Homo sapiens: one gene and its partners. The protein of the gene in region 3 interacts with the protein of the main gene of each other region in a pairwise test. Each region holds a gene or a part of one and is shown on either strand. Other genes may lie near its edges. The genes, in order: N4BP3, MTURN, RNF41 and HOMER2.

Region 1 (4,332 bases), on a different chromosome or scaffold from region 3:
AAATGTGAGACTCTAGTAAGGGCCAGACTGATGAAGTCTAAATAGCATTTGAGCTCCAAAAACTGGGGCCTGAGGTTTCTGGGAGGAGGTGGCAGCAGACGCTAGGAGGTTGAGGGGAGGAAATGCATGGCAAACAAAGGCTGTCTTGTCATGCAGATAAAACCTCTCAAGCAGCCCAGTCCTCAGAAGAGATGGTATCACCTTCAGTATCCTTTCCTGTGAGTTAATTGTCCATGTTTTATGAGATGCTAGGGAAAGGGCTCAAGACAATGGCATTCCTTCTGCAGGAACTTCCCTTAGAAACAAAAGAGAACATCAGAGAAGGCCCCTCCCTGCGCTTCAGGAGGGTTTTGGGAGGGAAAAGGAGTGAGCGATGGTCAGATACTTTAGTTCAAAGCATTCAGCCTCCCACAGCTTCATACTTTGGGGTATCATTTTCTGAGCCCCACCACCAATTTCCTAGGATAGGATTTTTAAAATTTAACTCAATAAATGCAGGGGTGGGCCAAGCGCCGTGGCCCACGCCCATAATCCGAGCACTTTGGGAGGCTGAGGCGGGTGGATCACGAGGTTAGGAGATCGAGACCATCCTGGCTAACATGGTGAAATCCTGTCTGTACTAAAAATACAAAAAATTAGCCAGGCGTCGTGGCAGGCGCCTGTAGTCTCAGCTACTCAGGAGGCTGAGGCAGAAGAACTGCTTGAACTCGGGAGGCGGAGGTTGCAGTGAGCTGAGGTCACGCCACTGCACTCCTGGGCAACACAGTGAGACTCCATCTCAAAAAAATAAATAAAATAAAATAATAAAATAAATGCAGGGGTGGCACATAGTATGACTTTTTTCCCAAATTTTTATCCAGTTATCCCAGCACCGCTTGTTAAAGCATCCTTCCTTACCCTTATTTTGAAGTCCTTTATTGTGTAAGATTTTCTACAGAATAGAATCTATTTCTGGCTCTTCATTCTTTCCATGAGGTGTAGATTATTTTTACACCAATGTCGTATTTTTCTTGCTACTTTGTAATATGTTCTAATATTACATATTAGAGCAAAGGAATTAAATACCGCTCACAAAAAAGGAAAGAGAAAAAACCCCATACGGTTATTGTGAAAGCAGATCAGTGGTTGCCAGGGGCTGGGGTGGGGCGGGGGGTGGACTAGAGGGCCACAGGAGAATGCTGGGGGGGTGACAGAACTGTATCTTCATTGTTGGGTTCGTTACATAACTCTGCATTTGCCAAAACTCTAAGTAAGCCCAAAGCAAAATGAAACCATGAGACCCACCTCCTGGACGGATGAGTGAGCCAGCTGGGAACTCCCATGGCCCTCCAGCCTCTCCTCTCGTGACATAATCACTTTTGTTTTTGTTGCAAGAAGCATCATTCTTTTTCTTTTCTGAATCCAATATGGATGCCTAAGCCCCCACCTGCCAAGGGGGATGGGTTATCAATATCTGAACCGTCACTGCAGGGCCTGCGCCCTCTTTGCAGAAACCTCAACACTTACATTCCGTGAGTCTCAGAGAAATGTACCCAGCCCCACAGATAGGCTTCCTCTGCCTGCTCCATGCTCTGCTGACCCATGCCACCATGGAGGCCCCTCTGTTGTCCCTAGTTCTGTCTGAACACTTCTGGATTCTCTTCTGTTCTCTTTTCCGCCTGCCTGGCCCCAGTCACTATTTGGAGCGGCCTTCACTACCTCTGACATGTGTGGTCTCCCTCCCCCACCCACAGGTAAGCCCTATCAGGGCAGGGGACCGAGGGCCTTGGCCACCTTGGCTTCCTCACCTGAGAAGGCCCCAAATACATCACTGGAACGAATGGCAGCTGCCCCTGGAGTCCCTGTGCTTGGCACAGACCTGGTGCCCACGGATGGTGAACGAACATTCAGAGTAAGTCTTCCCCATCCACCCCACCCCAAGCTCAAACCCATTCTAGTATTGGGGGGTCTCTGGTTGCTCCTGACTCCACATCCCACCAGTGCCTTCTGGAGCTGTGGTGAAGACACCACCCTACCCCGGCAATGCCCACAGCTCAAAGGAGACAGGCAAACCAACAATTACAGCAGCACAGAAAGAGCTGACGGAGATTGGCATGGGGGCTGTGGGCGCAGGGAGGAGGGAGTGCCCAGGCAGGGGAGGCGGTGAGTTCAGGGCAGGTTTCTCAGAGCACTGAGGGGCTCTGCCTGCAGGATGAGGGCTCAGAGGGCTACAAGGGCTTGCCAAGGTAAGGAGGAGGCACCACTATCAGTGACTCGAGGCCACTAGTGTGTCAGAAGCCTGAAGGGATGGACCAAGAGGCCCAGGGAGCTGCTGGAAGGGATGACACTGAGTGAAGGACTGGAGGCCCCAGAGGCAGGGAGCCCAGCACCAGGAGGCTGCCACCTTCCGCAGAGCAGGCTGCCCGGACCAAGCCTGTTGGGGAGGGGCTGCAGGGAAGGCTAAGCCAGGGCAGCTGGGAAGCTGAGGCCCCGCCAGCTGGAGGGAGGGGCTGCCCTGAGGTGGTAGCCACTACGGTGACACCTGTGATCAGTGACACCTGTGGTCGGTTGGCCCCAGAGCCACCCAGCCGGCTGGGGGACCCAGGAACTGGTTTGTCCAGCCTGGATGAGCTGACGGGGATCCAGCTCCGAGACGCCCCAGGCTCAGGTTCAGCTCTCGTGCCCTCCCCCTACATCTGGGCCTGGCTTTGGTTTCTGGCACAGCTGCCAAGTTTTGGTGCCTCCCACCCACTCCCCACTGGCTGTACTGGCCAGCCCAGCTCCCTAATCGCTGGGTGGGGAACTGTTCTGCCGAGCTGGTATACCAAGGTGGACCCTGGCACCAGGTGTGTGGGCCCCTGGCTTGACAGGCCCCTGGCCATGGAGGCTGTGATCAAGGCATCTGGCCAGCACCTGGCTCTGAGGGGCCCTCTGGAGGAGCCATTGTCCCAGAGATTTCCGTTTGGGGTTTGGGGTTTGGAGGAGTTTGTGAAATGGGAATGGGTACCAAGGGGGTGTGTAGACGACTGGCCTGCCTGACCTGGCCACTCCCCCTTTCCCTCCTCAGGCAGACAGGAGCTCAGGTGTGGGCCTGTATGGGTCTCAGATAGGCCTAGGGGATCTGTCTGGGACACAGGCTCCACCCAAGCCTGGCCAGTGCCAAGACAGACTGGGGCTGACAGGAAGGAATGGGGTAGAGGGTGGGGCCAAGAAGGGGCCTGCACTGTCTCCAACCCAGACACTGGCTTTTGGAGGCCAGGCTCCCAAACACACCCCCTCAGACACACCCACCACCCACAAGCACATCTTTACACACACCTGCCACTTACATGGCCATAAACACACCATCCCCACAGCAGACAGTGCACACGCCTCATTCTCTGCCCTGAAAAAGGGGGCCCCCCCAGCTCATGCCTCACACCCGTCCCCTGACATCCATGTGCACTAACTCCACTTCACAACCAGGACCCACCTGTGGGGCCTGAGGGGCTGCCAGGCACGGCCAGGGTAGCCAAAGGGAGTGAGGTGGGGCTCTCTGCAGATAACTTCTCAGAAGTTCCCTGAGCTGCCCTGTCAGGGAAGAGACTGGTGAGCTGACATCAGTGTGCAGGGCCCCCTGCGGCAGGAGCTCATCTAATTCAGCCTGTGCCCCCACACTCACAAGGGCCCAGCACAGCACCTGGCGCCCAGTAAGCACGCAATGCATGGCAGCCCGTCCAACGATGAGCGCGTAAGAAAGCTGAGCTTCCCTCAAAGGAAGGGAGAGACGCCACTCACACAGCCAGACAGAACCTGTGTTCCAGGCCGGGCACCCAGCGGGGGAGCAAAGGCCCAGAGGGCAAGCCAGGCCTCTGAGAGACCAAAGGCAGGTGTGGGTTTTAGGGACCAGCCTTAGCTGAGAGCAGGGATCCGGGAGGACTGACCGTCCTGGAGCCCAGCGCAGGACAGAGGCAAGGTGGGGTGGGGAATGCTTCCTCCTGGGAGAGCTTTCCAGAATGCAAATCAATCATATTTCACCCCTACTTAATAATGCCCTAGAGCCCCGTTGCTGATGGGGAAATGTTCCCATTCCTTGCTGTGGTAAAGGCTCTTTACCAAGAAACCCATAAGCTTGCCCACCTCCTCTCCTGCACCTTCCTACGAACAGGGAATGAGGCAGAGCACTTCTAGGGGCCCCCCACTCCTATGGAGGGAGGGAGGGAGACAGGAGGTGGGTGCGGGGAGGGGCATGGCCTGAGCCTGTGGATACTCCTGGGGCCCAGCCTTCCCACCAAGAAGACATTTCATGTTCTCAAAATGCCTTGGTTGACTTGCCCTTTGTTTTTTTGGCATTCCCTGGTGTTGTTCCTTCTG
Region 2 (8,282 bases), on a different chromosome or scaffold from region 3:
GCAGCTACTGTCTCTGGAGGGGGCACTCAGCACAGTGGGCTAGAAGGTCTTCATAAAGGAAGGGGAGGTGGTGTCTGTACCCTGGAGAGCACGGCCAATCAACCATGGCTTTTGTGCATCGAGCAAGTGCCCTGTGGCTTCAGAGATCCTTGTATGTACCTTCCAGGGACTCCCCTTAGGCAGTCTCTCTTCTCCTTCACTATGTGTAGGTGTGGATAATGTGCTCAGCAATCTACCTCAAACGCAGATGATGATTCAACAGGTCTCAAGTGGGACCCAATTCTGCATCTCTAACACACTCCCAGGTGATGGGAATACTGTTAGTCCAAGAGCCAGGGGTGGTAGGACTCTAAAGCATTTGGGAAATGTGGCACCATATATCTTCATGATTATGATGCTGGCGGTATGGGGAAACCCCTGGTGGGGTCCTGGTCTGTCAGTCAGTCTTCTTGACCCTAAGGAAAAAAGGGTGGCAAGATGGATGCAGCACAATGGGCAGGAGGAGGCACTCTCTTACCTTTTGAGGCCATCATACTCTCTAAAAAAGAGAATGGTTTGAATGTTCATAACATGAATGAGAAAAAAAAAAAGGAAAAAAGAAAAAAAAGATAAACTGTCAATATTCCATGTTTATTATGAAACCCACATGTGTGCATAATCTTTTCTCATCAGACTTTCCCTGATCCACCCAGGCAGCTTCTGACAGGTGGATTCTTTCTCTTTTCCAGGCTCTTGACCAGACTCCATGAGTAGAGGCAAGAATTGGACTTTTTCTGGGACACAGGATTTTCCTGTGGGATTTAAGCCGCAGCTCTCCAGCCACTTGTGGCAAACTGAAAATATCAATCTTGCTTATGCCAGTGAACCAGAATTAGGGGGATTTTTCTGGCAGAAATGTCTCTTTCTTGAGAGAAGAAACGCAGAGTCACACAGCAAGCCCAGGAGAGGACTTGGGCCAACTGAGTGAGAATCTACAAGGACCACAGGACCCAACTCCAGGCCGGGCCATGGAAGCAACAACAACCAAACAGCACAAAAAACTGCAAGAGCAATAGGGGACTCAGGACCCTAATGTCCACAGCGTTGGTAAGGAGAAGAACACACTCGAGGAAGCAATAGTTCCTTGTTAAGCCCATAACACTTTGAGAGAATTCGAAAGGGCAAAGATAAAGTCTAGTTTCACTGCTAAATTGGAAATAGTAGGCTATTTCTTCTCTTGTAAACTGTTTTCTACCCAGCAGTAAGTCTGTCAGTTGACACTAAATATAAAACATGAAAAGATGGTGGGGAAAACTGAACGGCATGATCACCATTATTTAGGTCCGTAACCATTGTTTCATTCTCCAGCTCAATCGTGTATGACCAGCAACTGTCAATGGAGGGTCACTTAAGAAAAATGCAAGGTTCTGACGATTATCCAACTCACACTTACCAAAGTGATTGATGGGGGTTTCTGAAACCACTACAAGTAGCAGTACCTGCTCGTGGATGCCAACAACAGCCTGCCTGGCATTGTCATGTGCATACATGTGCCATTTGGATACGACATGCCAGTAGCAAGAAAAAATAGGTAAAAATCATACCTCTCTGAGCAATCAACATTAGCAAGTAGGAGGTCACTGGAGTGGAGTAGAATGTGGGTCACTCGAGGGAAGGTGGCCGGCTGCATCCACAGTCATTTACCCATCCAATAAACATTTCCTAATACCTGTTAGGAGCCAGAAACTGAGACTAAATTTAGCAGAGTGTCTGGGTTTTGACAATCCTTTGGGTTCTCAGTCTGACTTCAAAGTTCCCCATGAATCCACAAGACAGCTAAATCAGTATTGCCCCCATTTTAAAGCTGGGGACACTGAGGCCAAGTGTACCTGTTAGAGGCCACACAGCATGGGAGCAAAACAGGGCAGAGCCGATCTACCTTCCACCACATGGAGCCATTTCTAAGGAAACGGAGCTGAGGCAGCCAAGATGGACGCTTCCTGGACTTCCTCCTGGGCCAGCCCTGCCCCTGCTCTGAGCACGTCTAGGTCCGGCTATTCTTCAGTCCCACCTCCTCATGAAGCCACTGCCTGGCTTTGTTCCTCAATGAGCCTGCTCACACTGATACTCCTAGCCCTTCGAATACGCTGGAAGCCACAGTTTCATTAAAAAATATATTTTCTGATAATGTGATCATAGAAAACTTAGAAAATGTGGAAAAGAAGAAAATAAAAAATCATCCATAACCCTGAGCGCTTTGGCCACGTGCCCCTCTGGGAGGACAGGTGCATCCACTGGTCCTCTATGGAGTCCTAGCCTCTAGCACAGTGAGTCGTGTGGATCAGGTACTCAGTGAATGCTTGTAATTTTACCAAAACCAATGTTGATAAACTTTTGACTTACCCTTCTAATGCCTTTTCATGTTGAAATCACTTAGCAAATTGTTTTCTCTCTCCACCAATAATCTAAGGTTCCCCCCAACGGTAACCTGCTCACTTCTCCACAGTATTTTGTCTAGTATCCTCATCCTATCCACATCATACTAACATTGACTTAGTGCCTACCGTGGATAACGCACTGCACTGAGTACCCAACAAAAACTCCATTAATCTTCACTGCAACCCTAAGGGAACTATCATCATTAATTTTCTAATTTTACAAATGAACTGAGAAACAGAGAGGTTAAGTAACTTGTCTAAGGTCACACAGCCAGCAAGTGGTAGAACTGAGACTTAAATCCGGGTAGCCTGACAACAGACCTTGGGTTCTTCATGACTGTAGTACCTGTTCCCTCATAATTGGGTTAAGAGATGACAAGCAACCCCCTGCAGAACATGCTCACAGAAATAGCTCTCCCAAGAACCAGTAGAGTGCAGTAGGCAGAGCAGGGGACTGCTCTAAGATGAAGGTAAAAACACTCCTCCTGGGGCTGGCCCACGATAAACAAAAAAGCAGCTGCATGGATTGATCAGATTCCCATGTATTTTCAGGGAAATGATGTGCTGGTTTTACCCACTTGATAACCTGTAGCATTTGGGTAAGCGTTTCAACAAATACGTTCAACTGTGATGACAGCAACAAAACCCCTACCTATGTCTTATCTGTAACAAACCTCCCTTACGTAAAACAAACAGATAAATGGTGCCATTGGGAAGCAGTGCTCTATTTGGTGGAGGTGGAGAGTGTCAAAGTTTCTCCAGGGATCTCTGTGGTCCTTTATTCGGGTTTGTGACGCTCCCTCTCATTCAGTCTGGGGCGCATCCTGACTGGGAGAAACTTGAGGCCTTCAGCACTTCATCTTTACCAGTCCGGGAAGGTGCCTCCCACCAGCCTTGCCCTCAGGGGTAAACCGGCCCTGCCAGAGGGCGGCCCAGCCCACAAACCTCCTCACCAAAGGGCATGCTGTGCCACGTCAAGGCCTCCTCACCTGGGGAGCCACATCCCTGCCCACAAGGTAAAGTTCCACTTCAGAAAGGAAACCTGGAAGCCCAGCAACAGCACACCAAAGCTGTGGGCCCACGTGACACATCTCAGCGCCACCTGAAAGAACTTCCTCAACCAATCCAACTGCTTTCAGCTGCACATCCGGATTTCTTTTGGACCGCATTTGTTTCCTCATTTAACGTGGCTAGCCTGGTTGCCAAAATACAACCAGAGCCTCGGTAAGGAAAAACAGCACAGTGACTCCCGGCTGGAGCTCCCCTTCCCAGGTGAGCCAGTTCTGCAGGGAGGGGAGGCTGCCTGCCACCACAGACGACACCCACAGAGACCAGCTGGCGGCAGGTCAATGAGTGAGCCCCTGTGAGGAAACCTGCTGCAAAGCGAACCTCAGTTGCTAACGGGTATTCTTCTGGTTAAAATTTACAGGAATCCATTTCTTTTTAATTTTGCCTAATGTGATCTCCCTTCTTCGATGTCTAACAGGCATTTAAAACACTGACATGTCCAAAACTGAGCTCTGACATTACCAACCCCAAACTCCCCACCACCCGCCCCCGCAGCCTTCCCCATCTCAGTAAATGACTAGGCCATTCCCTTCACTGCTTGGGCAAGAAACTCAGGGTCAGCCTTCTCTCCCTTTTTCCCACATCCCACTTCTGATCCACCAGCAAGTCCAGCTGGGTCTACTCTCAAGGTATCTCCAGAATCCAACCCCTCACCCCGCCTCTGCCGTGACCGTCCCAGTCCAGGCCACCACTATCTCTCACCTGGATGACAGCAATGGCCTCAATGGCCTCTCTGTCCCTCCCCTAACACAGCCTGTTCTCAACACAGTCATCAGAGGGAGGCTTTCAAGATGTGAAGTCAGGTGACATCCCTCTTCTGCCTAACCCCTTGGGGGGCTCCCCATCACTCCAGAGTAAGAGCCCATGTCCTTCTGTGACTCCTGGAATTCCTCCAGCTCACCTCTCTCTAATTCCTTCAGCCACACTGGCCGCTCCTGCTCCCTGGACACAGGTGTTGTCCAACCCCGAGGCCTTCATACCTGCTGCTCTCTCTACTGAAAATGCTATTCCCCTAGATTTTCTCATGGCCCACTCTGTAGTCTAAGTTTTTCCTCAAATGTTACCTTCTCAGCAAAGCCTTCCCTGGTTCCCTACTCAAAAATTCCAGGACCCCTGACACTTTTTACCCCATTCCCTGATTTCTTTCCTTTCTCTTTGGCACTTAATTACTAGCATCATTTCACGACATTACGTGTGTCCTTGTCTATCCTGTCTCCCCCCACTGGAGCACAGGCTCTGTGAGATCTAAGCTTCTCATGCTTTAGTTCCAGTGCCAGGAACAATGCAGTACACAGTGCCATGTACCCAGTGGGTACCCAAAACATATTTATTGAATGAATGAATGTGGGACAGACTGGTACTTTTAAGTCAAGTATCTATTTTGAATGTGCCAAACTGGCTTAGAAAATTAACAAACAAAAAAGGGATTTCAGTGGTTTTTGTCACTCTATTTGATTTCTGTCATTTGCTTAAGCAAATCAGAGTGACAAAAGCCACTGAAATCTCATTTCTTACAATGGTGCACAAAGTGACTGGGTCCAACTCTTTCATTGAGAATGACTAAAAAAAGCTGAATTAAATATGAAAAATACCTTCTTAAATATAAAATATTAACCAGGAGAGGGTAAGCCAAACATAAAAAGCTGCTTTTATCCTGGGGGCATTTGCTGACCTGGAAGCAGCAGCTAGAAACTTCACTGCTTTCTCAGGCTACTCTAACAGTTTTCCAAAGGAGCAGACTATACACCATCCCCACTTGAAGCTGGGCCCCCAGAGGCCCACACCCTCAGAACGAGGAGGAGGCACAGGAGGCCAGACCCGCATCCTGCCTTCTCACCCCCGGGAGCCATCAGAGAACCACAAGACTTAAACTGTGCTAAGGTGTCTCAGACTAATAGGCCCCCAAGTCCTGACGGAAGCAAACAGAAATCCTCTCTGGAGTAAGGTACTGTCATCTCAGGCCTCACTTTATTCCTACATGTAAACTTTCAAATACAATAACTAGCACACAAAGATAATCCCACACACAGAGAAACAAGATACCAGGTTTGAGAACTAGCAGAAACAAAAGAAGACCAAACAGACTTACAAAATGAAATATCATCAGACATAGTCTACTATGCAACCAAGCTTACTATGTTCAAAGAAACAGAAGACAAGCTTGAAAAACGCAGCAGAGAAGGAGACAGCATTAGAACAGATTTGAAAAATAAATAGAAATTCTAGCAAATACCACTGAACATGTGCAGTATTTACAGTGGGCAGGGAATCGAACTTAGGGGAAACACTGAGACACTGGTGATGGGACTTTATCTTCCAATGAAGATAAAGGGAAGTAGGTAATCTTCAAAATAGAAGTGAGCATTCATTTTAAAGGTTTATCAGCTAGAATGAAAACAGACTGTCAGCTAGCCACAGAAATACACATTCCTAAATCCCAAAAGGGGAAAACAAAGCAACAGTAGCTCATAACAGAGACTTTTTAAAAATAGAAAAGAATAGAGCCAGTATCCAGTTTCATCCTTTTCCATACCCACAAACGTGGAGGTATTAATATAACCTGTATACAGCTTCCCAGCAATCCCCAAATATACGCCCCACTATTATAAAAGAACCTCCATTGGGCTTGCAAGTGCCATGGTTCCAAGTCTCCTAGAGGAGAACAGGAACACTCAGTTGTCTCATAAAGGATCTGTTTGCTTCCCCCCCCATCAGGGATTCTCAACTCAAGTGATGCTAGAAATAACCATCATCCCTGCAGCAAACAGCTGTGTCACATCCCGTCCCCCTCCTCCCGCCCTCGGCCTCCCTATACTGGCTGCTATCTCTAAGCCACAGGACAGACAAGAGAAAAACAATTAGTCATCCCAGGTTTTGCCCACCTTCCCCACCGCCCCTGTTATTCTAAACACAATCACCATAGAAAACAAGCTGTGGTGAGAAGCCAAGCAGGCACCTACAGGTCTGAAAGACTTGAAGACTTTTTCCAGGACTTCGTGGAGCGTCTTCTTGCCGCAGGAGGAGATGTAATCCTGTGCTAGCTGCAAGAAAGGCAGGCAGTCCTCGCTCTCACTCCACACGTGCTGCGTGCCCACGGGCGACGGAAGGAGAAAACAAAGACACACAGTCACTACACTCAGTGTGAAGTTCAGAAAAGCCAAGCAGATTTTCTTAATAACATCAATTTGAAGAAGGCCTCCATTCTACAGTAAAATTCATACATGCGTTCTTGATTTGTTTGCGTTGAAAGGGAAGAAAAAATGTCTAATCTATAGAAGCCCCCGAGCTTTTGGTCCATACCTCACCTGCTCTGTTCATCATCAGATCTGCTCCTACACAGTAAAGAGGGCAGTGGGTGGCCATTCCTCACCAATGATTTCCACTGTTCACCTTGTGCAGGCTAAGGGCGGTTTTCAGACATGGGGAAGGAGAAACCAGAGCCTTTGCCTTCAAAATCCTTAACTTTGCTTTCAGCTACGGCTGAAAGATTAATTAAGCATAGTTTGTAAGCATTAACTTGGAACAAGACATTCTTTACCCAGATCGGCCTGTGAGTAGGCGTGGTGGTAAATTTACTTCCAAATGCAAATAACTTAAGAGAACCCACCAAGTCACCACTATGTCACTGGAAAACAAAGGCTTTCTGAAAACTTCCCTTCCCTAAAATGCTTTAAAAGGACATCATACCGAAGCATCATTTCACAATCTAACACATACTAAGAGGAGATCGGTTTTAGATTTTTTGTTTCTTTTTCTTTTTCTTTTTCAGACAGGGTTTTGCTCTGTTGCCCAGGCTGGAGTGCAGTGGCATGATCTTAACTCACTGCAACCTCTTCCTGCCAGATTCAAGTGACCCTCCCATCTTGGCCACCCAAGTAGGTGGAACTACAGGTGCGCACCACCACACCTGACTAATTCTTTGTATTTTTGGTAGAGACAGGGTTTCGCCATGTTGCCCAGGCTGGTCTCGATCCACCTGCCTCAGCCTCCCAAATTGCTGGGACTACAGGCGTGAGCCACCATGCCCAGTCTAGGTTTTATTTTTTCTGAAGACTGGGTAAGGCTTTTTTCCATGTGAGGATATCCATTTTAGCACATCTTTAAGACTAGGCAAGCCTCTCTCATAAATGTTCAAAGACCTGGAACAAGGCCAAGAAATAGGTTTGAGCATTCTTAATGCAGAATACCCTGCCCTGCATATCTAAGCAAGTCAGGGACACGGGGCTTCCAGGGTAACATCAGAGTATCTGTCAGGTACCAAGAATCACTCTTTAGTGGGGACGGATCCAGGATGGCTAAACACTGGCAAAAAAAAAAAAAAAAAAAAAAAAGTATTGAGGTCTGGGAGAAAGAAAGACATCTGGCAGATAAGAACAAGATGCAGCGGCCAGATAGCAGGATAGAAGACTTATGTGGAGACATGGTCCATGCCAAGCACACACTGGCCCCATATCCCTATCACTCAATAAACACATTTCCTCTCCTTTCTTCTCATTGCAGGGTTTCTGAGAACTAGACCTACAGACTTAAAATACTGCTCAGATCCAAATGAGAATAACTAGGTGCCAATGTACCATCTTTATACCCCAATTATCTGTGTTTCATAGTTGCAAAGGTCCATTTTCGACACACGTTGCTCTCATGCCAGCAGACTTCTCTAGAGGCTTCCCCAACCCAATAAAGACAACGTCTGGGCTCTCTAGCTTTAGCGAACAGCTCAAATGCTCTTCCCTACTAATTAGAGACCCTTAAAGCTGTCAAACCACCACAATGTCATTTATGTAATAGTCTCTTCCA
Region 3 (8,282 bases):
AGTTGTGAAACAAGACAAACAAGTAAAAAGTTATATAACAATAAGAGATACAAATGATATTCTAGGACAATAGGACAGATGACACAAGGCAGCCAATTATTAATTGCCATCTGGATTGCATACACAATAATTGCCAAAAATGTCCAGAGGAGGGTGAGGTCTTTTCAGGCTAGCTCAATCACGGCAGGTATTTATGAAGAGGACAGAATTTGATATGGGTCTTGAAGGATAATTCAGATGATAGATTTAGAGAGGAGGAGGACATATTTACTGGCAAAAATTCAATGTAAGAAAGCTAGGCCAGGCATGGTGGATGGCGCCTGTAATCCCAGCACTTTGGGAGGCTGAGGTGGGCGGATAATGAGGTCAGGAGATTGAGACCATCCTGGCTAACATAGCGAAACCCTGTCTCTACTAAAAATACAAAAAATTAGCCGGGCGTGGTGGCGGGTGCCTGTAGTCTCAGCTATTTAGGAGGCTGAGGCAGAAGAATGGCGTGAACCTGGGAGGCAGAGCTTGCAGTGAGCCAAGATCATGCCACTGCACTCCAGCCTAGGCTAAAGTGTGAGACTCCATCTCAAAAAAACAAAACAAAACAAAGCTAAATAAGGCCGGGCATGGTGGCTCATGCCTGTAATCCCAGCACTTTGGGAGGCCAAGGCAGGCAGATCACTTGAGATCAGTTCAAGACCAGACTGGCCAACATGGTGAAACACAGATATATTCATATATACATATGTATACACAAATACATATATATGCAGACATCTATTCATATTTGCTTATATCTGCCTTAAGACACACTGGAAGGATACCAAATAAACTAATAAAAATAGTTATCTGTGGGGGAATTAGGTGCACAGTAATAAAGACAGAAGTGAGAATTCTCACTGTATACCTTTTGATTTCTGAACTATGTTCATTTTTCACCTATTCAAAAAATAAATAATTATGATGTGGGGAAATCAGCATCCCTAGCAGGAGCCTTCTAACCTTAGAAATGTGTCTGGGAACCTGGCATCATGAGGGTTGCCTGCTCTGCTCCTCAGAAGATAAAGCCTGGAGGTAGATGGGTGGCTTCTGACTAGACTGTCACCAACTACGACTCACCTTTCCATAAGTGACTTGCCTAAAATGATAGTGCCAGAAAACAGACAAGGCCCTGCCAGGGTGAGGAGGGAACCTGACACACCCTGTGACCTCTTGACACTACTACTTGATGACTTGCTCCACACCCATCTAATATGCCTCTAATGGCAGCAGACTGCAAAGGCCTAGAAAGAAGACAGGTCCAGAGTTGGTTGCCATTGGAATGCAGTCTGAATTTTATTCAGCTCAAGGCATCAGTACTCCTTTTGGAGTAGTACTGGGAGAAAAAATAAAGGCTCAAGGGGAGCCCCTGGGAGTTAGGTGAGCAGTGAATGGGGGAAGGGCCATGAAACCTCATTGCCTAGTGTCCTGGTTTGGAAAATGTGATAATCTCTAGATAGCCAGGAAAGAGAAAGGATTAATTGGTATTTACAGAATGAGGGCAATAAGGATCCTGGAGGATGCTGTCCCATGAATACAACTCTTAAGGATTCACCTCACTCATTGTACTTGCCTGGTAATCGTGAGCTTCTCCTCATACTTGCCCCAGGATGATACAACTGACTCTGGTCTGGCAAGGCTGGCAGAGAAATGACCTATTGAAGGTGGCAGCTTTCACATCAAAATGCAGAGTGCATGGCTGTATCAAAAGCTGGTCTTTTCAGTAGATCCCAGGAAAAAAATAGGTCAGTACATACAGTTCCCCACTTCCTATTTGTTTTTGTTTTTTTTTTTTTGAGATGGAGTCTCACTCTGTCACCCAGGCTGGAGTGCAGTGGCACAATCTCGGCTCACTGCAACCTCCTACTCCCGGGTTCAAGCAATTCTCCTGTCTAGCCTCCTGAGTAGCTGGGACTACAGGTGTGTGCCACCACGCCCAGCTAATTTTTGTATTTTTAGTAGAGACGGGGTTTCACCATGTTGGCCAGGATGGCTCTTGAACTCGTGATCCACCCACCTTGGCCTCCCAAAGTGCTGGGATTACAGGTGTGAGCCACTGTGCCCAGCCTTCCTATTTGTTAGACAGTAGGCAGGTAGAAGAGGCCTGCAGGGAGCCTGGCTGATTACCTGAAGCACTACATCATAAAAATGCAGAGAGAACTTATTAGGAGAGTCCAGAAGTTCAATCACGGACAGGAAGATGGAACCTAGTAAGAGTTCCTGTAGAGGAAAGGAAGCTACCCAGCTACTATCACAAGACAGAAACAAGCAGCTGACTGTTTTACAGGAGAAATCTTTCAGAGTGACCTCAGAAAAAAATCTGAACCACTGGATCTCTGTGGCATCCACCTCTAGATTGATTCTGGAAGGCCTTATTCTTGTAGTCACCATTACTCCTTTGACCTAAATCTCTATTGGGTGAGGGTGGAGAGAAGAACACAGTGACTTCACCATGGGTCCCGCTGCCCATGAATATTTTCTACTAGTTCCACTGCTACCTGTTGCCCCACCAAACCTGCCATCAGACCAACTCACCTGTACTGGCTCCTCCAAGACTCCACTGCAAATAGGGCAGATAAGATCTTCGTCAACATCCCCCTGGAAACGGGTTACATCATACCCCATGTCTCATCACTGAAACCCAGGTCCTGAAAGGACAACAGGAAAAAGAGGCCAGTTCAGAAGAAGCCTACAAATATGTGACAAACATACACTCATTGCCAAGATCCATTCATTTATCCAACAAATATTTACTGGGAGTCTACTATGCAGCAGTCATTTGGCTCGGTGGAAGCTGACTCAAGAAATTTAATTCTGGCCAGGTGCAGTGGATCACGCCTGTAATCCCAACACTTTGGGAGGCCGAGGCAGGCGGATCACCTGAGGTCAGGAGTTCAAGACCAGCCTGGCCAACATGGTGAAACCCTGTCTCTACTAAAAATACAAAAATTAGCTGGGTGTGGTATGCGCATCTGTAATCCCAGCTACTCGGGAGGCTGAGGCAGGAGAAGCATTTGAACCCAGGAGGCAGAGGTTGCAGTGAGCCGAGATCGCGCCACTGCACTCCAGCCTGGGGAACACAGCGAGCCTCAGTCTCTAAAAAAAAAAAAAAAATTAATTCTAAGGCCTGGCACAGTGGCTCACGCCTGTAATCCCAGCACTTTGGGAGGCCGGGACAGGCAGATGAGCTGAGGTCAGGAGTTCAAGACCAGCCTGGCCAACATGATGAAAACCCAGCTCTACTAAAAATACAAAAATTAGCTGGGCGTGGTGATGCACATCTGTAATCCCAGCTACTTGGAAGGCTGAGGCACAAGAATCACTTGAACCCAGGAGGCAGAGGCTGCAGTGAGCCGAGATTGCACCACAGCTCTCTAGCCTAGGCAACAGAGTAAGACTCTGCCTTAAAAAAAAAAGAAAAAAAGAAATGTAATTCTAATGGGGGAAGACATTATATAAGCACACATTTAAAATATAAAGTGATAAATACTCAGAGTAGAGACAGGACCTTATGAGGACAAGAGACATGAATACCTAACCCAGGCTGAAAGCAGAGGGTGGTTTTGACAAGTTTTCCAGGACTGGGCGTCACCAGAAACGTGTCCTGTAGGGCAAGAGTCAGCTAAATGTTGGGGGAGCAGGGCATTAGGGTGTTATGCACATAAAATAGCACATCCAAATGCCCAGAAGAGGGCATATGATAGGTTCAGAGAATTTCAAGTGATTCAAGAAAAGGCTGACCTGAGAGGTGGGAGGGAGGGCCTGTCAAGAGACAAGGCTGGAGAGGCAAGCAAGGGCCATGCTGTGAAAAGTCTGTGAGGATTTTGGACTTTATTCTGAAGGGTATGAGAGAGCCACTGAAGGACTTAAAAAACAATGTGATAATAGTTCCATTTTAGAATCAGTATGTTAACAGGGGAGAAACTGGAGACCGGAAGAACATCTAAGTCAGGAGAGTGACGGTAAGAGTCTGAACTTAGGTGGTGGTGGTGATGGGGATAAAGAAGAGAAGAGAGGGCCGGGCATGGTGGCTCATGCCTGTAATCCCAGCACTTTGGGAGGCTGAGGCAGACGGATCATGAGGTCAAGAGATCAACACCATCCTGGCCAACATGGCGAAACCCCGTCTCTACTAAAAATACAAAAATTAGCCAGGCGTGGTGGTGCGCACCTGTAGTCCCAGCTACTCGGGAGGCTGAGGCAGGAGAATCGCTTGAACCCAGGAGGCGGAGGTTGCAGTGAGCCGAGATTGCACCACTGTATTCTAGCCCAGTGACAGAGCACGACTCTGTCTCAAAAAAAAAAAAAAAAAAAAAGAGAGGTCCAAAAGAGCAAGGACTCAAACAGCGGCAATGGCGCCATGCCCCTTCTTTGGGCTCCCAAAGGTCAAACCCAAAGAAGAGGTCAGTAAACAACTGGCTGGGCGCAGTGGCTCACGCCTGTAATCCTAGCACTTTGGGAGGCCGAGGTGGGTGGATCACCTGAGGTCAGGAGTTCAAGACCAGCCTGGCCAACATGGTGAAACCCCATCTCTACTAAAAATACAAAAATTAGCTGGGCATGGTGGTGGGCACCTGTAATCCTAGCTACTTGGGAGGGTGAGGCAGGAGAACTGCTTGAACCCAGGAGGTGAAGGTTGCAGTGAGCTGAGATCATGCCACTGCACTCCAGCCTAGGCGACAGAGCAAGACTCTGTCTCAAAAAAAAAAAAGAAGAAACACATAATCCTTGTCCTCAAACTAAGGTGTAGGCTTGAGCCCAATGAGTACATAGGAAAAAAAACACATAAAAACACATAAACGTATTAAGCAAATTATTAACAAGTAAAAGTCAATAATTTATGTAAGTTGTAAATATACAAAAAAGAACAAATGGTACAGATTAATCACAGAAAGCTTTCTGCAGAAAGAAGTTTTAAGAACTGGACTTTCAAGGGCAGAAGGAATCCCGAGCGACAGAGAAGAGGGTTGAGGCCTGGAATGGGATTCTGAATCAAAGCTCTTTACCTTCCAAGTGTTGGGGGGCAGGTTCCCTGTTCACAAGGCTCCAACCCCCTGATGCCTCCACTCAGTGCCACTGAAGAGATTCTCCCAGTAACCCATCTTGTTGGCTATTCTCCGACTGAGTATTCCTTCCCAGTGACAAGCTCCATCGCCCAGGGGATGAATGTGATGTCACAATCAGGAGTACTCTAGTAATAGGAACAAGGAAGAGAAAGGAGAGTCAGGAGAACTACCTCCACTTGGCAAGGAGACTGGACAGATGGATCTGGCAGTTGGTTGGGGAGGATGAGACAACTCCATTAAGCACTACAGTTTTCAGTGCTAGGCAAATAAGACTACCTTCTAAGGAGGGAGCTCACCAGCTAAGGAAGCACACACACGGGGTCCAGTAGATTTGAACATAGCTGGGAGGGGGAAAGAAAAGGACAAGAGAGGCCGGGCGTGGTGGCTCACGCCTGTAATCCCAGCTCTTAGGGAGGCCAAGGCGGGTGGATCACGAGGTCAGGAGATCAAGACCGTCCTGGCTAACACGGTGAAACCCCGTCTCTACTAAAAATACAAAAAATTAGCTGGGCGAGGTGGCAGGCGCCTGTAGTCCCAGCTACTCGGGAGGCTGAGGCAGGAGAATGGCGTGAACCTAGGAGCTGCAGCTTGCAGTGAGCCGAGACCGCGCCACCGCACTCCAGCCTGGGCGACACAGCAAGACTCCGTCTTAAAAAAAAAAAAAAAAAAGACAAGAGGAAAAGTAGAGGAGTTGTTGGAGATTTAAGATTCTTTTATTCAGTGCACATAACTACCAGTAATAATGATTCCAAATCTGTGACTACAAAATGCATAGATCCAGGTTGCGATGGCTCACGCCTGTGATCCCAGCACTTTGGGAGGCCGAGGCGGGTGGATCACCTGAGGTCAGGAGTCGGAGATGAGCCTGGCCAACATGGCGAAACCCCATCTCTACTAAAAATATAAAAATTAGCCGGGTATGGTGGCAGATGCCTGTAATCCCAGCTACTCAGGAGGCTGAGGCAGGGAGAATTGCTTGAACCCAGGAGGCGGAGGTTGCAGTGAGCCAAGATCGCGCCACTGCACTCCAGCCTAGGCGACAGAGCAAGACTCTGACTCAAAAAAAAAGCAAAATGCATAGATCCATAATACATTATGTGTACAGGATGATGCTTTAATGCAGAGGTCCCCAAATCCCCAGATGGACCAGTACCAGACTGTGGCCTATCAGGAACCGGGTCGTACAGCAGGAGGTGAGCAGGAAACAAGCGAGCATTAAGGCCTGTGCTCCATGTCCTGTCAGATCAGCAGCGGCATTTGATTCTCATTGGAGCATGAACCCTATTGTGAACTGCCCATGCGAGGGATCTAGGTTGCCCACTCCCTATGAGAATCTAATGCCTGATGATCTGAGGTGGTAGAGTTCCATCACAAAACCATCCCCTCGCCCACCATCTGTGGAAAAACTATCTTCCACAAAAAGGCTGGGGATGCTGCTTTAATGTTTCCAAAGTGCTTTCACATAAATTATTATTATTATTTCGAGATAGAGTCTCGCTCTGTCACCTAGGCTAGAGTGCAATGGCGCGATCTTGGCTCACTGAAGCCTTGGCCTCCCGAGTTCAAGTGATTCTCCTACCTCAGCCTCCAGAGTAGCTAGGATTACAGGCACCCACCACCATGCCCGGCTAATTTTTGTATTTTTAGTAGAGACGGGGTTTCACCATGTTGGCCAGGCTGGTCTCGAACTCCTGACCTCAGGTGATCCACCCGCCTCAGCCTCCCAAAATGCTGGGATTACAAGTGTGAGCCACCGCGCCTGGCCCACATAAATTATTATTATTTTTTTGAGATAGGGTCTTGCTCTATTGCCCAGGCTGGAGTACAGTGGCATGATCATAGCTCACTACAGCCTCGCCTTCCCAGCAGGCTCCAGCAATCCTCCCACCTCAGTCTCCCAAATAGCTGGGACCACAGGCACACACCACCATGCCTGGCTAATTTTTGTATTTTTGGTAGAGATGGGGTTTTGCCATGTTGCCCAGGCTGGTCTTGAACTCCTGGGCAGGCTCCAGCAATCCTCCCACCTCAGCCTCCCGAAGTGCTGGGATTACAGGCACCAGCCACTGCGCCCACCCCCAAATCTACACATTTAAACAAGTCAAGTAACCCTGCTGTAGTTTTTCTGTTGCTTCAACTGTCAAGTAGGGAAAATGATACCTGCCTTATATATTAATATAAGGTATATATAATATATACATATTTATTATATATATATATGTTATTTTTTTTTTGAGACAAAGTGTTGCTCTGTCGCCAGGCTGGAGTACAGTGGCACGATCTTGGCTCACTGCAACCTCTGCCTCCCGGGTTCAAGCGATTCTCCTGCCTCATCCTCCCAAGTAGCTGGGACTACAGGCATGTGCCACCATGCTGAGCTAATTTTTGTATTTTTAGTAGAGACGGGGTTTCACCATGTTGGCCAGGATGGTCTCAATCTCCTGACCTTGTGATCCGCCCGCCTCGGCCTCCCAAAGTGCTGGGATTATAGGCGTGAGCCACCATGCTTGGCCTATTTTTCTTTTTTTTTTTGAGATGGAGTCTTCCTCTGTCGCTCAGGATGGAGTGCAGTGATGCAATCTCCTCAGCTCACTCCAACCTCCACTTCCCAGGTTCAAACAATTCTCCTGCCTCAGCCTCCTGAGTAGCTGGGATCACAGGCATGTGTCACCATGCCAGGCTAATTTTTATTTTATTTATTTATTTATTTATTTTTTTTTTGAGACGGAGTCTGGCTCTGTCACCCAGGCTGGAGTGCAGTGATGCGATCTCGGCTCACTACAAGTTCCGCCTCCCAGGTTCACACCATTCTCCTGCCCCAGCCTCCCAAGTAGCTGGGACTACAGGCGCCCGCCAGGACGCCCAGCTAATTTTTTTTTTTTATTTTTAGTAGAGACAGGGTTTCACCACGTTAGCCAGGATGATCTTGATCTCCTGACCTCGTGATCTGCCTGCCTCGGCCTCCCAAAGTGCTGGGATTACAGGCGTGAGCCACCGCGCCCAGCCAATTTTTATATTTTAGTAGAGACAGGGTTTCAACATGTTGGCCAGGCTGGTCTCAAACTGGCCTCATATGATCCACCACCTTTGGCCTCCCAAAGTGCTGGGATTACAGGCGTGAGCCACTGCGCCCGGCGTAATATAAGGTGTATATATGTGTGTGTGTGTATATATGTGTATATACAC
Region 4 (8,715 bases), on a different chromosome or scaffold from region 3:
AGGAGTTGCAGGTGGGACAGTATTACCTAGGAAGACAGTGTGGACAGAGAAAAGGAACCAGGACCAGTCCCTGGGCAACCCCATGATTAGGAGTAAGAAGAAAAGCAGGAAACAGTGGGGCCAGAGGAGCTGAGAGGGGTGTTGTTTTGAGGAGAGGGAGTGGTCATTTGTTAGGAATGCTGCTGAGAGAGGTGAAGTGAGGTGAGGCTGAGATCTGGCAACCCCCTGGTCACCCAAGACCCTGGCAGTTTTGGTGCAGAGGTGAGGCAGAAGCAAGACTGTAGAGTATGGAGAGTGAACAAATGGCAGGAGAAAGTGAATGGAGCCAGTGGGTTTGGATGTATCTTCTGAGGTGTTTTCAGGTGAAGAAGAGCAAAGAAGTGAAACAGGAGAGGGATGTAGGAGGGAGGGAGATCTCCTTTTTAAGATGAGAGCAACTAAAGCTATGCTATCCAATATGGTGGCCACTAGCTACATGTGGCTATTTAAATTTAGATTAAGTTAAAAATTCAGGTCCTCAGTCTCAACAACCACATTTCAAGTGTCCAATAACCACATGTGCTGGTGGCTGCCACGCAGATACAGAACATTTCCAGCAGTGCAGAAAGTTCTGTTGGTCAGATGTATGCTCCTATACTGATGGAGAAGACCCCGGAGAGAAAGGTGGTTAGGAAGGAGAGACAATCTCTGAAAAGATGGGAGGAGGAAGGGATGGAATGGAGGCTACCCCAGAAGAAGGGGCCCCTAGTAGGAAGAGATGAGGGACAGGTCATCCAGCACAGCAGGCAGGTAGGAGAAGGTAGCAGCAGCTGCATACTAGACTAGGTGGTGGCAAAATGAAGACATTCCCTTGGTCAAAGGTGCCTATCTTGTCAATTGAAAGGGAAGCCACGGGGTGTGCCTAGGAAGGGGAGAGGTCTGGAAAGGGGAATAGGTATGAAATAGTTGCCTTAGGGAGTAAGAACACAAACTCACTGGAGAGGCCACACTTAACACAGAACACTTCGCAGAAGAGAAGTGGAAAATGGTAGTGAACATTTGAGGGAGGAGAAGCATCTCAAGTTGGGGGGAGGTAAACTCAGATAGTTTGTTTTTTTTTCCCTTAAATCCTAGTCCTGTCTACACAGCAGAGCCATGACGAAGCTGTAGGATCGCAGCAAGGTTTTCTACTAGCTGCCCTTTCAAAAAGTTCTTCCCCCTCCATCCTACACAACTCTCAGAAAGGATGACATTGGTTCTATTTTCAGTTAAAACGGCTCCCTCCACCCTCCTGTCTGAATTGCTTCCCCAGCCCTTAGCTGCATCTCAATTTACGACCATGGCTTGTATTTTCACATAAATAATAGAAGACATGGATCTATTAAAAATGGCAGAGGTAGGTAGGAGTTACAAACCAGCCTTTATCTACGAGAAGTGAGTAATATATACATTTATCGAATGATGTTAAAATTACATGAAAGACATATTCTGTGTTTAAACAAAATCCCCAAGCGTCTCCTCCCTGCTTCTCCACAAACAAAAATTATTTTTTGACATTTTCTTTAAGGTTTTATGAGTGAGTAAACATTTTCATTTCCACAGAACTATTTGATCTCAACCACAGAGTTTCAGTACTTGTTTTTGATCACACAAGTACGGTGGATTGGTTTTGTGTTGGCCAGGGGGAGGGAGGGCCAGAAAGAGAGTTAAAATTACCGGATCCCTTTTATCTTCCATTCTGAGACCTTACATTTGCCAACTCCTTTTTCCCTGTACATTTTTTTAAAGTATGAAATCTGAGAACCTCAAAGGCTCTCACTGCTCAAAGATCAGCCTTTTCACAGTCCACTGAGGACTCACTGGAAATGTTACAGAAATACGGCCTGCCAACTTGGGTGCCTCTGGGTAAAATCACCCACAGTTGCTGTTCATGTGAAATCTCCTAAATGTAAGCACACTTCTTCAGCCCTCGCTGCTCATCTCGCCTCCTCCTCTCTGTCACCCACCTCTGTCATGTCCAGTTCATGTTGGCCCACAGCCCTCACACTTCCATTCCTCAAAATTCCTCTTGGCCTGCCTCTGATCCCCTCACACACTCTGCAGCTCCCATGGCTAAGACTCACCAGGCAAAATGACTCCAGAAACTTAACCTGGAGTACGGTGCAAGAAAGCCACTGACCCAGGGGGGCTGAGCCAGGGCACCAGGACAATCTTGCTCCTTCCACTGCACTCTTGCCTTCCCAGGCCCCACCCATCCCAAACAGGAAAGCAAGATCTCTAGACCCTTGGAGCAGAAGCATTTGAGTCCTGCGAAGGGCTGTTGGAAGAATGCTGGGTTCAGCAGCAGGGAACAGAGAGATTTAGGAATTCTGGTTCACTTACCCGCCTCCATGCCCACGTCAGGCAGTGGCAAGGCCACCCCTGCTACACAAATGCTCATCAACTACACAGCCTGGGGGAAGTCACCGAACCACTTTGTGCCTCAGTTTCCTCATCTGTAAAGTGGACATAAGTGTCCCCTGAATACGTATGGCAAACCGTCAACGTGTGCCCAAATAGAGTGAGCAGATGTAAGGAGTTATTGTGCTATTAGCACAGTGGCTCCCAGACTCACAGAGCCTACTGCTCAGAGAGACGCCGAGGGGAAAGCTTAAATTACTTTATATACTCAGAAGCATTAGTCACTTCGACAGAGTATTTCAACTTCCCTCCTGAGCATCTACTCAGTTGTTTCAAAGACTGAAGCCTCACCTAGGTTCCTTATAGACTTCCATCATCTTCAGCATCTCAAAGCAGATCCAAAGTCCACTATTCCTACGCTGGAGGTTTATTATTATTTGATTATTTCCAGGAAAACTTCGATTTCCATTTTGCTTGTAATAAATCCAAACGTGGAGAACGACAAACTGCTTAGACTCACACAGGCCCTGGAGTTGACTGCGCCCAGGGGCGAAGAGACCGCGGAATGGCCGAGGCAGGAGGCCGGCCAGGGCACCGGTCCCCGTCAGGTGCCCCCGTGCCCGGGCTGTATGGGAGGGGAAGGGCCACGGGCTCCGCGCCCAGGCCAGGGTGCCCCTGCTGGGTGTCCGCGTGCCCCGGCGGAGGGCGCGGGTCAGGTGGCCCCAGACTCCCGGGCGCAGAGTGTGCGCTCGCTCCGGCTTGGGGAGGCGGGGGCCGGCCCGCCGGGAGGCTCCGAGCCCGGTTACGCCAGCCGCGGCCCCGCAGTCCCTCCGGAGGGGCGCGCGGAGAGCGCGCGGCGCGGGCTCACTCACCCCATCTCCGGCGCTGCTCCGGCGGCCGCTCCGACGGGGCCTCTCGCGCTCGCTCTCCGCCCGCTCGGCAGCCGCTCCCCGCGCGGCACATGCGGCGGCCCGTGCGCGCCCGGCTCAGCCCCGGCGCCGCTCCATTCCGCGGGGCTGCGCGGCTGCCACTGCTGCCACTGCCGCCACCGCCGCCAGGCGCGGGCGGGCGGGGGCTGGGCGGCCGCGCTGGGGCGGTGCCCGCCCCGCCCTCCCCAGCCGCTACCCCCGCCCGGCTCCTTACGTAACCTCGTGGCCCCCGGGCCGCGGCAGCGAGCCAAGAGGCGGGGGGCGCAGCACTGTGTGCACCGTCCCCCGCGCAGCCGCGCAGTCGCCGCTTTTCTCCCGGGCCACCCAGTCCTCGGTGCCGGCCCCGCGTTGGCGCGCCCCCGCCCCACGCCGACCCGGGGCCCTGGCGCAGTGCCATCAACATCCTGCCTGATGGACTTAAAGTCCCATTCACACCTGGCGGGGACTTTAGGGCTACCTTTACTTTGCAGATAAGGGAACCGAGGCCTGGGGAGGGTAAGTGATTTGCCCAAGGTCACACATTCAGATTAGAGTTCGTTCGGGTCTCCAGAGTCTGAGATGGGCATAGCTGTGCTCCTCCTTAAAGCCCACCTTCATCTTCCTGCCAGTTGCCCGGCCGAGTGGCCTTAAGGTACCCGCCACCGTGAAATTTCGGAAGCCAGCCTGGCAGAGAAGAGCCTACAGGCCGCGGCAGATGCTCTGGGCTCTTTCCTGGATAAAAATGAGATGAGGGCTCCCACTTGAAGGGGCAGTTTTAAGGCGGCTTCATCAAGCTTGGTTTTATCCTTAGAGCGAGGGGAATTAGGATGGCAAAAGTAGAACTTGAAGAAGAGCAGGCTCTCTTCGTCGCCTTTCTACCTATCAGGTCCTGAGTTTCTACCAAAGGCTGGCACTGGGACTAACCTAACCTTCATCCCCCGGGACTTCCACGGGATCATCTTCTGCTGGGAACACACCGCCCACATAAGCCTGGCATCTCAGGACAGTAAAAAAGTCAAGGGACAGGTCGGGCGCGGTGGCTCACGCCTGTAATCCCAGCACTTTGGGAGGCCGAGGCGGGCGAATCACGAGGTCTGGAGATCGAGGCCATCCTGGCTAACACGGTGAAACCCCGTCTCTACTAAAAATACACACACACAAAAAAAATTAGCCGGGCGTGGAGACAGGCGCCTGTAGTCCCAGCTACTCCGGAGGCTGACGCACAAGAATCGCGTGAACCTGGAAGGCGGATCTTGTAGTGAGCCGAGATCGCACCACTGCACTCCAGCCTGGGCAACAGAGCGAGACTCCGTCTCAAAAAATAAATAAATTAATTAATTAAATACATAAATAGCCGGGTGTGGTGGCGTGCTCCTGTAGTCCCAGCTACTCCCAGCTACTCGGGAGGCTTGATGCAGGAGAATCGCTTGAACCCAGGAGGCAGGGGTTGCAGCGAGCCGAGATCATGCCACTGCACTCTAGCCTGGTGAAAAGAGCCAGACTGTCTCAAAAAAATAAATAAATAAATACAAAATAAGTTTGTAAAAAATAAAATAATCTTGGGAGTTTCCAAATCCTCCATGCATAGTAATCAGCAATATCAGGAAAGTGAGCTTGTAGAACACTGAACAAGTCATTTATCAGGTAATACCTGAGGATTCTGAAGTGTTCGAATAACTTCAAAGGCAAGCCACTGAAATCAGAGTTTTTCATTTTTATTTTATTTTTATTATTTTTTTTTTGAGACGGAGTCTCACTCTGCTCACCCAGGCTAGAGTGCAGTGGCAGTGGCGTGATCTCGGCTCACTGCAACCCCCACCTCCCAGATTCAAGCGATTCTACTGCCTCAGCCTCCCCAGTAGCTGCGACTGCAGGCGCATGCCACCACGCCCAGTTTTTTTTTTTTTTTGTATTTTTAGTAGAGACAGGGTTTCACCATGTTTCGATCTCCTGACCTCGTGATCCACCCGCCTCGGCCTCCCAAAGGGCTGGGACTACAGGCATGAGCCACCGTGCCTGGCCGAGTTTTTCATTTTTTTAAACTACAATCCACAGTAAGAAATATATTTTACACTACAACCTGCAACCTGGTACATACTTCAGCACATACATACTATGTCTATAGGTATATCGATATAAAATAGAAACAAAAAGTTATATAAAACAATGTTTATCCTCTCACTTGCCAGGCAGGCATTCAGACATCATTCTGTTTTGTTGTTGTTGTTGTTGAGACAGAGTGTTGCTCTGTCACCAGGCTGGAGTGCAGTGGCATGATCTCAGGGCACCACAACCTCCGCCTCCCAGGTTCAAGCGATTCTCCTGCCTCAGCCTCCCAAGTAGCTGGGACTACAGGCGCGCACCACCACCCCAGCTAATTTTTGTATTTTTAGTAGAGACAGGATTTCACCATGTTGGCCAGGATGGTCTCCATCTCTTGACCTCGTGATCGGCCCACCTCAGCCTCCCAAAGTGCTGGGATTACAGGCGTGTGCCACCGTGCCCGGCCCATTCTGTTCTATTTTTAAAAGCAGTACTGCTCATAACCTACTAAATTGATTTCAAAACCTATAATCTACGTATTTTTACTTTCTTTTTCTTTTTCTTTTTTTTTTTTTTTTGAGACGGAGTCTCACTCTGTTGCCCAGGCTGGAGTGCAGTGGCGCAATCTTGGCTCACTGCAACTTCTGCCTCCTGGGTTCATGCAATTCTCCTGCCTCAGCCTCCCGAGTAGCTGGGGCTACAAGCGCATGCCACCACACCTGGCTACTTTTTTGTAGTTTTAGTAGAGATGGGGTTTCACCATGTTAGCTAGGATGGTCTCGATCTCCAGACCTTGTGATCCGCCTGCCTCGGCCTCCCAAAGTGCTGGGATTATAGGCGTGAGCCACCATGCCCGGCCTGTATTTTTACTTTCAACAGCAAAATTAGGCTCACCATGTACATGCATAATGTTGTTATTAGTGTGCTCAGATTTCTGGTATGGCTGGTCCAGGGACTTCAAACATTTTTTTTTCTAACCATAAAAGGTCAGTTCTTTCAACTGCATATGAAACAAATGTATTATTAAAGCCATTAATTAAAGGGATAACTGTCGGGTATTATGCAGCTATTACATTATATTTGTGAAGCCTATATAGTAACATAGAAATATATTTATTCTTTCAATAAATGTTGATCACCTGCTGTGTATCTGGTACTGTGTTGGGCATAAAGTGCTCAGCAAAACAGACGTCCTTCTGTCATAGGACTATAAGATTGTGTGAATGGTATTAATCAAATAATCACACAAATATATAAGCTACGATCTGTGTGAATAGGAGACCTAATTTAGGTTGAGGAGGATGGTCAGGAATGGCCTGTTGAAGAGACATTTAAAAAGAGGCCTGATGGCTGGGTGTGGTGGCTCATGACTGTAGTCCCAGCACTTTGGGAGGCCAAGGCAGGCAGATCACTTGAGGCCAGGAGTTCAAGACCAGCCTGGCCAACATGGCAAAACCCCATCTTTACTAAAAATACAAAACCTAGCCAGGCATGGTGGTACATGCCTGTAATCCCAGCTAATTAGGAGGCTGAGGCAGGAGAATCACTTGAACTCAGGAGGCAGAGGTTGCAGTGAGCTGAGATTGCATCACTGCACTCCAGCCTGGGTGACAGATTGAGACTCCATCTCAAAAAAAAAAAAAAAAAAGAAGAGGCTTGAAGACAAAGAAGCATCAGTCATGGGGAGCATGAGGGGAGGGTTCCAAGCAGAGGAAACTGCAACGGCCCTGAGGTGGTAGAGAATCATGCTGTTCTGAAGAGCTGGGAGAAGGCCAGTGTGGTTAGAGTGCAGTGAGCTTAGCAAAGCATGGGTGAAGTATGCAGGGCCCTTTGGCTGGATTAAGGATTTGCAATTTATTCAAATGCAGTGAGAACCCACTGATGGGTTGGGGAATGCCGTGATCTGGTTTATATTGTTAAAATATCACTCACTCCTGGGAGAAGAGGGGATAAGAAGGGGACAAGAGTAAAACATGGAGACTGGTTAAGAGGCTCTAGACAAAAGATAAGGGTGGAGATGAAGGGAAGTGGATTACAGATTATAGATATTTTAGAGGTAGACTCAATAAGACTTGGTGGATGGGATGTGTATTAGGATATAAAGTTAAGTTTGTAAAATAATCTGAATTACAGCTGTGCTATGAGTATAATTATGTAAAATTAGAAAATATGGACAAGGCCTGGAGTATAGAAAATGAAAAAGTTTATTAGGATGGCAGAAGGAATATAGGGTAAAGGCATCAGTATTAGACTCAGACCTGCATTAAGTCCTGGATCTACCATTGACTATCTGTGACCACGGGCAAGTTTTTAACTTCTCTGAGCCTCAGCGCTCTAATCTACGAAGTGGCGATATCTCTTTGGACTATTAAGAAGAGTGAATGAGAACAGGTGTGGTGGCACACACCTGTAATCCTAGCACTTTGGGAGGCTGAGCCGGGTAGATCACCTGAGGTCAGGAGTTCAAGACCAGCCTGACCAACATGGTGAAACCCTGTCTCTACTGAAAATATAAAAATTAGCTGGGCATGGTGGCACATGCCTGTAATCCCAGCTACTCGGGAGGCTGAGGCAGGAGAATCACTTGAACCCAGGAGGCAGAGGTTGCAGTGAGCCAAGATACTGTGTCACTGCACTCTAGCACGGGCAACAGAAGTGAGACTCCGTCTCAAAAAAAAAAAAAAACAGAGTGAATGAGATCATATCTGTAAAGTGCTTAGCTCAGTCCCTAGTATAGTACATCTTCAATACATTACAGGTATTATTATTATTATTACTGGCTATAATGGTGGAACTAGGGTGAAATTTTCATTTATTGTGACTGAATTAATATTGTCAAAATGGTTCTTATATAATCAACATTTTAAAATTTAGTACAGTTTGAGGATTCTCAATCTGCCCCCACCATGGAAACAGCTTGTGTACTTCCTGCCAGATAACACTTTGCCAATCTGTATCCAGAGCCCTCCATAGATTCAGGACCCCTCTACAGGGCACCTAAGGATCAGAGAAGACTATGGGCTGTCTCTTTAAGATGACACCAGATCAGTATGGGACCACCAGCCCTAGCCCCTGCTGTTTCCAATCAGGCCAAGGGCCTGCCCTTAGGAAGGTGAGCTATAAACGATTTCCAACAGTCCCATCTGTCCTCTGCCTCTCCCATCCAGGGCTCTCCTAAGTCTATGTGTCCTGGATGCCTCCAGAGATTTTGATAGCATCTACCCATTTTTCTTTATTTATTTATTTAAGACGGAGTCTCACACTGTCACCCAGGCTGGAGTGCAGTGGCGCGACCTCCACTCACTGCAACCTCTGCCTCCCGGGTTCAAGCGATTCTTCTGCCTCAGCCTCCCAAGTAGCTCGGATTAGAGGCATGCGCCACCAT

The links.
Region 1: the proteins of RNF41 (region 3) and N4BP3 interact in binary tests that used the Homo sapiens proteins (3 or more experiments, as listed by UniProt).
Region 2: the proteins of RNF41 (region 3) and MTURN interact in binary tests that used the Homo sapiens proteins (3 or more experiments, as listed by UniProt).
Region 4: the proteins of RNF41 (region 3) and HOMER2 interact in binary tests that used the Homo sapiens proteins (3 or more experiments, as listed by UniProt).

The regions. Positions count from the first base shown.
Region 1 is NC_000005.10:178,122,649-178,126,980, reverse strand, and holds the end of N4BP3 (NEDD4-binding protein 3), read right to left. Parts: 3' UTR 900-4,332; downstream 1-899.
Region 2 is NC_000007.14:30,144,463-30,152,744, reverse strand, and holds part of MTURN (maturin), read right to left. Parts: intron 6,569-8,282; coding exon 6,446-6,568; intron 1-6,445. UniProt on the Homo sapiens protein: Promotes megakaryocyte differentiation by enhancing ERK and JNK signaling as well as up-regulating RUNX1 and FLI1 expression. Represses NF-kappa-B transcriptional activity by inhibiting phosphorylation of RELA at 'Ser-536'.
Region 3 is NC_000012.12:56,211,393-56,219,674, forward strand, and holds part of RNF41 (E3 ubiquitin-protein ligase NRDP1), read right to left. Parts: intron 5,222-8,282; 5' UTR 5,037-5,221; intron 2,679-5,036; 5' UTR 2,656-2,678; coding exon 2,566-2,655; intron 1,747-2,565; exon of another isoform or gene 1,604-1,746; intron 1-1,603. UniProt on the Homo sapiens protein: Acts as E3 ubiquitin-protein ligase and regulates the degradation of target proteins. Polyubiquitinates MYD88. Negatively regulates MYD88-dependent production of pro-inflammatory cytokines.
Region 4 is NC_000015.10:82,949,280-82,957,994, forward strand, and holds the start of HOMER2 (homer protein homolog 2), read right to left. Parts: upstream 3,442-8,715; 5' UTR 3,257-3,441; coding exon 3,252-3,256; intron 3,244-3,251; exon of another isoform or gene 2,766-3,243; coding exon of another isoform or gene 2,731-2,765; intron 1-2,730. UniProt on the Homo sapiens protein: Postsynaptic density scaffolding protein. Binds and cross-links cytoplasmic regions of GRM1, GRM5, ITPR1, DNM3, RYR1, RYR2, SHANK1 and SHANK3.